Linked DNA regions of Homo sapiens: region 1 is linked to region 2. Evidence: fine-mapped expression QTL. A gene starts in region 2. The other region holds a variant in brackets. All regions are shown on one strand. Distances are between the middles of the regions. Region 1 has its middle 20 kb from the start of AFF4-DT. Region 2 holds the start of LEAP2 (liver enriched antimicrobial peptide 2).

Region 1 (5,378 bases), 110 kb after region 2:
CCAGCTAATTTTTGTATTTTTTAGTAGAGACAGGGTTTCTCCATGTTGGTCAGGTGATCCACCCGCCTTGGACTCCCAAAGTGCTGGGATTACAGGCATGAGGCACTGCGCCCAGCTAGGGTTTCTTTTCATGGTGATCAGAATATTCTAAGATTTATTCTGGTGGGCCAGGCACGTTGGCGTACACCTGTCATCGCAGCGCTTTGGGAGGCCAATGCAGAAGGATCCCTTGAGCCCAAGAGTTCCCGAGCAGCGTGAGCAATACAGCAAGACACTATTGCTACAAAAAAAAAAAAAAAAATTAGGCCAGGCACGGTGGCTCACACCTGTAATCCCAGCACTTTGGGAGGCCGAGGTGGGTGGATCACCTGAGGTAACGAGTTCAAGACCAGCCTGACCAACATGGTTAAACCCCATCTCTACTAAAAATACAAAATTAGCCATGCATGGTGGCACATGCCTGTAATCCCAGCTACTTGGGAGGCTGGGGAAGGAGAACTGTTTGAACCCAGGAGGCAGAGGTTGCAATGAGCCAAGATCACGCCATTGTACTCCAGCCTGGGCAACAAGAGCGAAACTCTGTCTCAAAAAAAAAAAAAAAATTAGTCGGGCATGGTGGTGCGTGCCTGTGATCCCAGCTACATAGGAGGCTAGGGTAGAAGATCTCCTGGGCTTAGGGAGGTCGCAGCTGCAGTGAGCCATGATCATGCCACTGCACTCCAGCCTGGGCAACAGAACGAGTCCTTGTGAGTGTTTCAAGAGACAAAGCAGAAGCTGTAATGCCTCTTATGACCTCACCTCTGAAGTCACACACTGTTATTCTTGTACTATTCTATTGGTCACATAGGTTATCTCTGATTCCATATGGAAAGGGACTATATAAGGTCATAAGTAACTGGAAATTATTATCATTGGGAACCATCTTAAAGGCTGGTTATCACAATCCAAACCATAATTTTAAGCAATTTACACAGGAAAAAAATGTTAATGAACACTAAAGTCTGATTTTTAAAATATTGACTCAATTTTATTTCCAGTTCGTATCTATATGTATACCCTACATATACATTGCTCACTGTTTGAAGTTTATTCCCTTTAGGTGTATAAATTTATTTGCTTGTTTTTTCTTTTTATTTTGAGACGGAGTCTTGCTTTGTCACCCAGGCTGGAGAGCAGTGGCACAATCTCGGCTCACTGCCACTTCCGCCTCCCAGGTTCAAGCGATTCTCCTGCTTCAGCCTCCAGAGTACTTGGGATTACAGGTGTGCGCCACCACGCCCAGCTGATTTTTTTATTTTTAGTAGAGACAGGTTTTCACCATGTTGGCCAGGATGGTCTCAAACTCCTGACCTCAAGTGACTCACCCACCTCAGCCTCCCAAAGTGCTGGGATTATAGAAGTGAGCCACCACACCTGGCCTGTTTGTTTGTTGTTTGTGTTTTTTGTTTGTTTTTGTTTTTTGAGACGGAGTCCCACTCGGTTGCCCAGGCTGGAGTGCAGTGGTGCGATCTCAGCTCACTGCAACCCGTGCTTCCTGGGTTCAAGGGATTCTCCTGCCTCAGCCTCCCGAGTACCTGGGACTGCAGGCGCACGCCACCACGCCCAGCTAATTTTTGTATTTTTAGTAGAGACAGGTTTTCACCAAGTTGGCCAGGATGGTCTCGATCTCTTAACCTTGTGACCTGCCCGCCTCAGCCTCCCAAAGTGCTAGGATTACAGATGTGAGCCACAGTACCTGGCCTTGTTTTTTTTTTTTTTTTTTTTTATTGATCATTCTTGGGTGTTTCTCGGAGAGGGGGATTTGGCAGGGTCATGGGACAATAGTGGAGGGAAGGTCAGCAGATAAACAAGTGAACAAAGGTCTCTGGTTTTCCTAGGCAGAGGACCCTGCGGCCTTCCGCAGTGTTTGTGTCCCTGGGTACTTGAGATTAGGGAGTGGTGATGACTCTTAAGGAGCATGCTGCCTTCAAGCATCTGTTTAACAAAGCACATCTTGGACCGCCCTTAATCCATTTAACCCTGAGTGGACACAGCACATGTTTCAGAGAGCACAGGGTTGGGGGTAAGGTCATAGATCAACAGGATCCCAAGGCAGAAGAATTTTTCTTAGTGCAGAACAAAATGAAAAGTCTCCCATGTCTACTTCTTGCTACACAGACACAGCAACCATCCGATTTCTCAATCTTTTCCCCACCTTTCCCCCTTTTCTATTCCACAAAACCGCCATTGTCATCATGGCCCGTTCTCAATGAGCTGTTGGGTACACTTCCCAGACGGGGTGGTGGCCGGGCAGAGGGGCTCCTCACTTCCCAGTAGGGGCGGCCGGGCAGAGGCGCCCCTCACCTCCCAGACAGGGCGGCTGGCCGGGCGGGGGGGCTGACCCCCCCACCTCCCTCTCGGAAGGGGCGGCTGGCCTGGCGGGGGCTGACCCCCACCTCCCTCCTGGACGGGGTGGCTGCCGGGCTGAGACGCTCCTCACTTCCCAGACGGGGTGGCTGCCCGGCGGAGGGGCTCCTCACTTCTCAGACAGGGCGGCTGCCGGGCGGAGGGGCTCCTCACTTCTCAGACGGGGCGGCCGGGCAGAGGCGCTCCTCACCTCCCAGACGGGGTCGCAGCCAGGCAGAGGCGCTCCTCACATCCCAGACGGGGCGGCGGGGCAGAGGCGCTCTCCACATCTCAGACAATGGGCGGCCGGGCAGAGACGCTCCTCACTTCCTAGATGGGATGGCGGCCGGGAAGAGGCGCTCCTCACTTCCTAGATGGGATGGCGGGCGGGCAGAGACGCTCCTCACTTTCCAGACTGGGCAGCCAGGCAGAGGGGCTCCTCACATCCCAGACGATGGGCGGCCAGGCAGAGACGCTCCTCACTTCCCAGATGGGGTGGCAGCCGGGCAGAGGCTGCAATCTCGGCACTTTGGGAGGCCAAGGCAGGCGGCTGGGAGGTGGAGGTTGTAGCGAGCCGAGATCACGCCACTGCACTCCAGCCTGGGCACCATTGAGCACTGAGTGAACGAGACTCTGTCTGCAATCCCGGCACCTCGGGAGGCCGAGGCTGGCGGACCACTCGCGGTTAGGAGCTGGAGACCAGCCCGGCCAACACAGCAAAACTCC[A/G]TCTCCACCAAAAAAATACGAAAACCAGTCAGGCGTGGCGGCGCGCGCCTGCAATCGCAGGCACTGGGCAGGCTGAGGCAGGAGAATCAGGCAGGGAGGGTGCAGTGAGCCGAGATGGCAGCAGTACAGTCCAGCTTCGGCTCAGCATCAGAGGGAGACCGTGGAAAGAGAGGGAGAGGGAGACCGTGGGGGGGGGGGGGAGAGGGGGAGGGGAAGAGGGAGCGGGAGAGGGACGTTTTTTAAGACAGAGTCTCACGCTGTCACCCAGGCTGGTGTGCAGTGGCACAATCTCCACTCACTGCCACTTTAACCTCCTGGGCTCAAGGAATCCTCCCACCTCAGCCTCCAGAGTAGCTGGGACTACAGGCATGCGCCACCATATCTGGCTAATTTTTGCATTTTTTGTAGAGATGGGGTTTCTTTCACCTTTTTGCCCAGACTGGGCAAAATCTCAGCCTCCCAAAGTGCCGGGATTATATGCGTGAGCCATGGCGCCCACCCCCATCTGTTTATTCTTAAGTGAACCTTGGTAGTTTGTCTTTCAAGGAATTTGTCCATTCATCTAATTTATTTATTTAATTTTTAAAGAGACAGGGTCTTGCTCTGTTGTTCAGGCTGGAGTGCAGTGGTGCAAACACAGTTCACTTCAGCCTCAGACTCCTTGGCTCAAGCAATCCTCCCACCTCAGCCTCCCAAGTAGCTGGGACTATGCACCACTAAGCCCGGCTAATTTAAAAAAATTTTTTTCTAGAGACAAGGGTCTCACTATGTTGTGCAGGCTAGTCTCCAATTGCTGGCCTAAAGCAATTCTCCAGCCTCAGCCTTCCAAAGTGCTGGGATTATAGGTGTAAGCCACAGCACTCTGCCTATCTAATTTATTAAATGAGTAAAGTTGTTCATACTGTACTCTTAGTGTTCTTTTAATATCTGGGAATGTGTTGTAATAGCACCTCTCTCATTCCTAATGTTGGTAATTTGTGTCCTCTTTTTTATCCTGGGCAGTCTGGTTAGAGGTTTATCAATTTTATTAATCTTCTCATAGAACCATCTTTTGGATTCACTGAATGTATTGTTTTTTCATTTTCTATTACATTGATTTCTGCTCTGATCTTTATTTTTCTTTCCTTTCTTATATTTCTTTCTTCTGCTTATTTTGGGATTTTTTGCTCTTGTTTTCCTAGTTTCTTAAGATGAAAGCTGAAGTCATTGATTTGAGACTTTTCCCCTAATATAAATTTCCCCTACGTATTACTTCAGCAGCATTTCGCAAATATTAATATGTTTTGTTTTCATCTTCATTCAGTTAAAATGTCTTCTAATTTTCCTTTTGATTTCCTCTTTGAGCATGGATTATATGGAAGCATCTTGTGGCCGGGCACAGTGGCTCACGCCTGTAATCCCAGCACTTTGGGAGGCCAAGGCAGGTGGATCACGAGGTCAGGAAATCGAGACCGTCCTGTCCAACATGGTGAAACCTCATCTCCACTAAAATACAAAAAAATTAGCCAGGTGTGGTGGCGAACACCTGTAGTCCTAGCTACTCAGGAGGCTGAGGCAGGGGAATCGCTTGAACCCAGGAGGCAGAGGTTGCAGTGAACCAAGATTGCGCCATTGCACTCCAGCCTGGTGACAGAGCAAGACCCCATCTCAAAAAAAAAAAAGAAGTGTCTTGTTTAGTTCCATATAGTGGGGGACTTTCCAGAGATGTTTCTGTTATTGATTTCTAATTTAATTCCACCATGGTCGAAGAATATATCTTGTATGACTTGAACATTTTCATATTTATTGAGACTTGTTTTATAGCATAGAATGTGGACTACCTTGGTAAATATACATTACTAAATATTCTGGGTACACTTTAAAAAGAATGTATATTCTGCTATTGTTGGGTGGAGTAGTTCTGTAAGTGGCAATTATGTCAAGTGGGTTTATTGTGTTGTTCAAATCTGCTGTGTCTTCACTGATTTTTTTTGTCTATTGTTCTATTAGTTATTGAGTATGAGTATTGAGATCTCTCACTATAATTGTGAATTTGTCTATTTCTCATTTTATTTCTATCAGTTTTGCTTTATGCTTTCAAGCTCTGTTATTAGGTGTATTCATGTTTAGGATTATTATATCCTAATATATGAATTGTCACATTACCATACAAAATTATGAAATAGTAATAATACAAAAATAATATGAATATGAAATATGAATATAAATGAAAATATGAATGTGAAATGTGAATAATGCAAAATATATGAATGATACAAAAATTATGA
Region 2 (5,371 bases):
ACCTTCTTACGGCTGCAACTGTTAAAGGCTACTTAGGCCTTTCTATTGGATGAAGGAGCATGCAGTTACGTGTATATTCACTGAGCAAAATACTTGATTGTAGAATCCATGAAATTTTTTTTTTTTTAATTTCAAGAAGAGGCCTTCACAGTCTCTCAAGTATGGGATGGCTGTGGACAAATACTGCCAATTCAGCTAACTGCTGCCTGGATGTTGCTTTGAGTTTGATTTTTGCTCCATACTTAACTAAAACAACTAGCATTCACGTAGACATGTTAAAATACTTTCCCCTTCCCCAACAGTGGTTCCTTCCACAGACAGTGACTAATGGTTTTTTCTTTTGGGGAGAGGGTGGCATACAACATAGAGGCTTGAACCAAAGGCCTCTGCAATGTTGTCACACTCATGAGGATGAATGGTCCTTTCCGCCTACACACAGAGGGGCAAGGGCTTCAAGCTCTTTCTTTCCTTGACTGTGTTATCAGCTTTACAAATTAACACCATGCTAGTTTGATCCTGCTAGAAGTACAGGAAGGCAGAAATGGAGGATTAGGAGAATTACTCATCTTTTGGATGAACAGTTTCCAAATCCCATTTGGCACATCACTCTAGACTGGTAAAGGGGAGGCTGACACTGAGGCCACAGACCCAACTGGCTCTAGGACATCACGTTGTTCAGTCCTTTGCTTATCTAATCATTTGTGTTCTTACCCAGTGCTCACTAGGTCACCCACATAGCCACTTCCCCTCCCAGCAAAAGTTCCCAGTTTAGGCACCTGTCTGGGATCATCCAGTATCCAAGCTTAGGGGTGAAGGGAGGGAGCAGAGAACTAGTCTCAACTGGTTCGTTGGTATATAGGTCTCTTCTCAATGTTCCTAAAGTGCATGCAGTGGCATCCCCCTCAAGGCCTGGCTCCATGATTCTGAGAGGACTAGAATCAGGACAGTCAGATCTGTGGTCACATCCTGCCCAATTCCAGCTCTGAGGTCCATCAAACCATCTGCTTCTCCCTTGGCAAGAAGCTCCCTCTGTCTGACTGGCAGCAGGGTCAGTGGCCATCCTTTTCTACCTTCAGCTGTTGTGCATCTCCTCCACGTTTTCCTGGAGTAAAGGAACAAGCAGGTTCTTATCCAAATACCCAACCTGTGAAGATGAGACGGCCCTTGGGAAGAGGTATTAGCCAAGTTTTCAGTATGATGCCCGGCAGAAAGAATTTGTTGTCTTTGTCTTAAGCTTATTATCCTCCCAGGTCATAGGAAGATCTAAAGTCCAATCAGTCTCCTTACTCAGAATTCACAGCTTTCCCCTCAAACTTAAAATGCCCATGTCATTTCACGAGTACCCATAACTACCCATCGTTTAGATACATGTCCTCCCTTGGTCTAGAAATCTGCAGCAGTTCCTACTTAAACTGATGGATGCTTTGGGCTTTGGAGGTATCTCATCCCTATGCCTGTTGCCCTGAAGCTGCCGGAAGGAAAGGCCCCACTCAACTACTGGGAAGAAAGCCCATAATTCAAGGCTTTTAATACAGTCACTACACAAGCTCTCCCTCTGATTTAGGAGATCTTGTTACCTCCTCATCTACATGTGCTTAAAAACAAAAAGAAACCTATAATTATTCAATTCACCTGTGGTCCAAATAAGTCTCACATCCAGCCATTCCCCTGAGAGGGCAGGAGGCCAGACTTTGAACTTTCCACAGCTGGGTCTTCATTTTACTAGTGAGATAAAGAGGTGCAGATTAGGGTGACAGTCCATCTAAGCAAGTGGACGATCTGGGGAACTGTAGGCCTTGCTGAAGCATCCTCCCACAGAAAGGAGATAAGGGCCTTATCCAATTGGCTGTACACAATAGATCAGTGCTTCTTTCCTAGACAAGGCTGAAAGGGGCCAACATTATTTCTGAAGACTTCATTATTGGAATTCTATGGGAGTGATCTCACTGAGCTATTTTGGAATAGAAATGTGGCTAGTTGCCTGACCTCCCTCAATGGTTTCACGTGGCTTTCAAAGGGAAGGAAGGGCAGTGCTGACTTTTGGTAAAATGGGCGAAAGGGTCCATGCCAGCAACACAATCACTCAAAGTCCAGATGAGGGATCAGTAAATACAACGTGCCTGAAAGGTGGCCCTTGAGCACATTCCTCCGGTAGACATTAACTTATTAAATTGATTCTGATTACAAATATAAACTTTGCCCCCATCTCACCCAGTAACAATGCAAGAGTTGATGTCAGTCTATAAAAGGAAGTAGGAACTGTCCCTGGCTTTCAGGCTCCAACATCCTCCCCCTGTCAAGATGTGGCACCTCAAACTTTGTGCAGTCCTCATGATCTTCCTGTTGCTGTTGGGCCAGGTAAGGAGGGAAGGATACTTATGTGTGTGTGTGGAGTGTGGAGATGATAGTGGTGGTGGAACTTGAAAGCTAGATTCAGTCCTGAGGAATGGTTCCTCTGTTCTGAGTCTACAGCATCTGCGGAATGGAATGATCACTCTTCCAAGGTGTGCAGCAGGGTGTCAACACTTTCATATCTGAATGTCTTTGCCCTTACAGATAGATGGCTCCCCAATACCAGAAGTGAGTTCGGCAAAGAGAAGGCCACGGAGAATGACCCCATTTTGGAGAGGGGTTTCCCTCAGGCCTATTGGAGCCTCCTGCCGGGATGATTCTGAGTGTATCACAAGGCTATGCAGGTACTCCCTGAACCTGGGAGCAGGGTTGGGCCAGAGAGCCCTGGGAAGCTGGGCAGAGGAGTGACAAGGGGACACATGAACCTAAGAATAAAGCTGGGATGGAGGAGTTCTAGACTGAGACTGGGAGCTCCATGGAAAATCCCTTAGGAGTTAGGAGCCAAGAACAGCTCTATGTGGGTACCATGAAAGAGTGGTGCCTTTCCATTCTTCAGTCTTTCCTGAGACTGGACAGATCAAGCAAAGAGGAAGGAAATGCAGCATAGGTGGCCCTGGTCATTCCTAGACCCAGTCTTAAAAAACTACCCTTTCTTTTCCCCTAGAAAAAGACGCTGTTCCTTAAGTGTGGCCCAGGAATGATGTACATACCAGGGAAAGAAAGGACAGCAGTCACCTCCGACAATGCTCCGTTCTATGGAATATTGATTAACTGCATTTTGGCTGGAGACACCCAAGTGAAGCAATCTTGTATTTTTAATATTTAAAGGCAGATGTACGCTTTAAATTGGTCTCCATTTCTTCTTAGAATGTTGATATATGGATAAGCATAACTAAACTTGTCAATTTAGAGTTTATTTTTCTATGGATACTATTAAATGTCTCAAATTGAAATTTTAGCAGTCTGGAATTCAAGCTTTTGAGGGAAAGAAGGATTCATTTTGTATACTAAAGAAAAAAACAGCATTGCCCAATAATGTGTTAACTTCTCAATCTGGAAAGTGTAGTGAGAGCTACATAATCAATAGCTACGTAATCAACTTCAGCAAGTTCCTAAGCTGTGGCCCTGGATCCCTTCACTCCATACTCTTCAGGGAGGTGTCAAAGGTGGTCAAGCTTGGGAGGCTGAGGCAGGAGAATCACTTGAACCTGGGAGGTGGAGGTTGCAGTGAGCCAAGATCATGCCACTGCACCCCAGCCTGGGTGACATAGAGAGACTCTGTCTCAAAAAAAAAAAAAAAAAAAAAAGATGGTCAAGCACTTGCCATCTAATGAAGCACCCAGGTTTGTCTATGGCTGTCTGAAGATAAGGCAGAACAGAGAGAAAAATCTAGTTTAATAAAGCAATGAAAGCCCAAGCCACCAAAAGCACCAAAAGAGATTTAAGATTTCTGTTGGGACAAGGTGAATTTTGACATATGCACAAGGACCCATGGCCAGCAAGTTCAGAATTTCTGTAATCAGAAAATGAGACCTCAGCTGGTGGGAACAGACTTTTAAAGAGTAGTAACGGACCTTAAGACACAAAACAGGAATTGCATGAAAAGGGCTCAGAGTTGAAGAAATATAAAGAGTACAGTGTTCAGTAACTTTAATACAGAAAATCTATTTGATATTTATTAAACTTAGTTTCTCCAACTATGGTTTGGCATTGTACAAAGCATCTTAATGACACAGTAGAGTTAAAAAGATCTTTACAAATTGAAATGTGATACCCTTGTCTCCAAATATTTTAATTGCCATAAATTTGTTTAAAAATACACATTAAACGCATGTTTGACACTCTAAACTTTCTATACTCTCAATACCACAAAATACATATAATATACTATACAGATGTGGAAAAATCTAGTTAGTATATAATACTTTGCTCACCATTAACAGCTTTATCGTGTGAAATGCACATACTGACTTAGAAATCCTAGCTTTTGAGCCCCAAAGTACCTCTGAAATTGTAATGTATTGCAACAAATAAAAATCACAGTATATAATTGAAATTCTGGTTGAAAATGTCAGATGCCTAAATATTTTGGATAAAAGAAATGTAAAACAAAGATTTGGTTCATGTACAAAACAAAGGCATCCTTATCAGTCACTAACAGTACCTTTCTGCAAAATCAACAGGCTTTTAATTTATCAGTGACATTATCTCCCCTCCAAAACCCTCCCCAAATATCAAACAATTATATACCAAATAATTTTAATTTCAAATAAAAGGATTTTCAATAAATATATAAGCATTTCCATCCTCCATATACAAAATTTCTTAAAACCATTCAAAACGGAGGCTAGATAGAAATTTTCATAACTGTGCTTACCAACCCCACAACTGGCCCTTAAAGGTGGTGCCTTTTCAGGCAATGTCAACTGGCCAGTTCTGTTGGTGAGCCCCCTACCCCCACCCCACCCATCCCAGTACTGTTGAATGCTCATGTTAATGATTTGCCAGGTGTGTGCATAAAGTTGTAAAATGGGGACACTTCTGGAACACCAACAACAAACTCAACAATATGGATGATCATGGCATTGATTTGAAAGGCAGCATTTCCAAATTGATATTTTCCAGAGAGGAACATAGCAGGTAGAAAATTCCAATGGTTAAAAGCTGAAAAGAAGTCCCACATGGAAGCAGTAAGAGGTCAAAACTGAGTATCACTAGAGTTTCTGGGTGGGAGCTTTTTTATTTTTAAGAATGGCAAGTTATGTTTAGCTGAGTAACAGTGGCAAGGAGAGGTCAATGCTGACATTCCTGAAAGTCAACTTCTTTACATGATGACTACTTAGGCTGCTATTTTAGGATACTTAAAGATCTCTAAGACTTGGATTAGACTTAACTTGAATACCTTATTCTGTGACCAAATTACATGAAAAGAAGATACATAGTTATTATTTCCATTCCCTTTTCTGGAGACAGCAAGTTCTTTCTAATTAACCATAGGGTTCATGTGAATAGGAGCTTT

The links. PIP is the estimated chance that this variant, and not a neighbour inherited with it, causes the effect.
Region 1: its variant is fine-mapped to the expression of LEAP2 in whole blood (TOPMed, PIP 0.99).

What each region holds. Positions count from the first base shown.
Region 1 is chr5:132,980,647-132,986,024 of GRCh38, forward strand. No RefSeq gene overlaps it. Among named protein-coding and RNA genes, the nearest start is that of AFF4-DT, 20 kb to the left of the region's middle. The variant A/G (reference allele first, on the strand shown) is at 3,112.
Region 2 is chr5:132,871,394-132,876,764 of GRCh38, forward strand. It overlaps LEAP2 (liver enriched antimicrobial peptide 2), which reads left to right and starts at 2,275. Exons shown (of 3, transcript NM_052971.3): 1 at 2,275-2,358; 2 at 2,557-2,696; 3 at 3,017-3,653. The coding sequence starts at 2,302. The coding sequence ends at 3,053. It overlaps AFF4 (ALF transcription elongation factor 4), which reads right to left. Exons shown (of 21, transcript NM_014423.4): 21 at 4,002-5,371.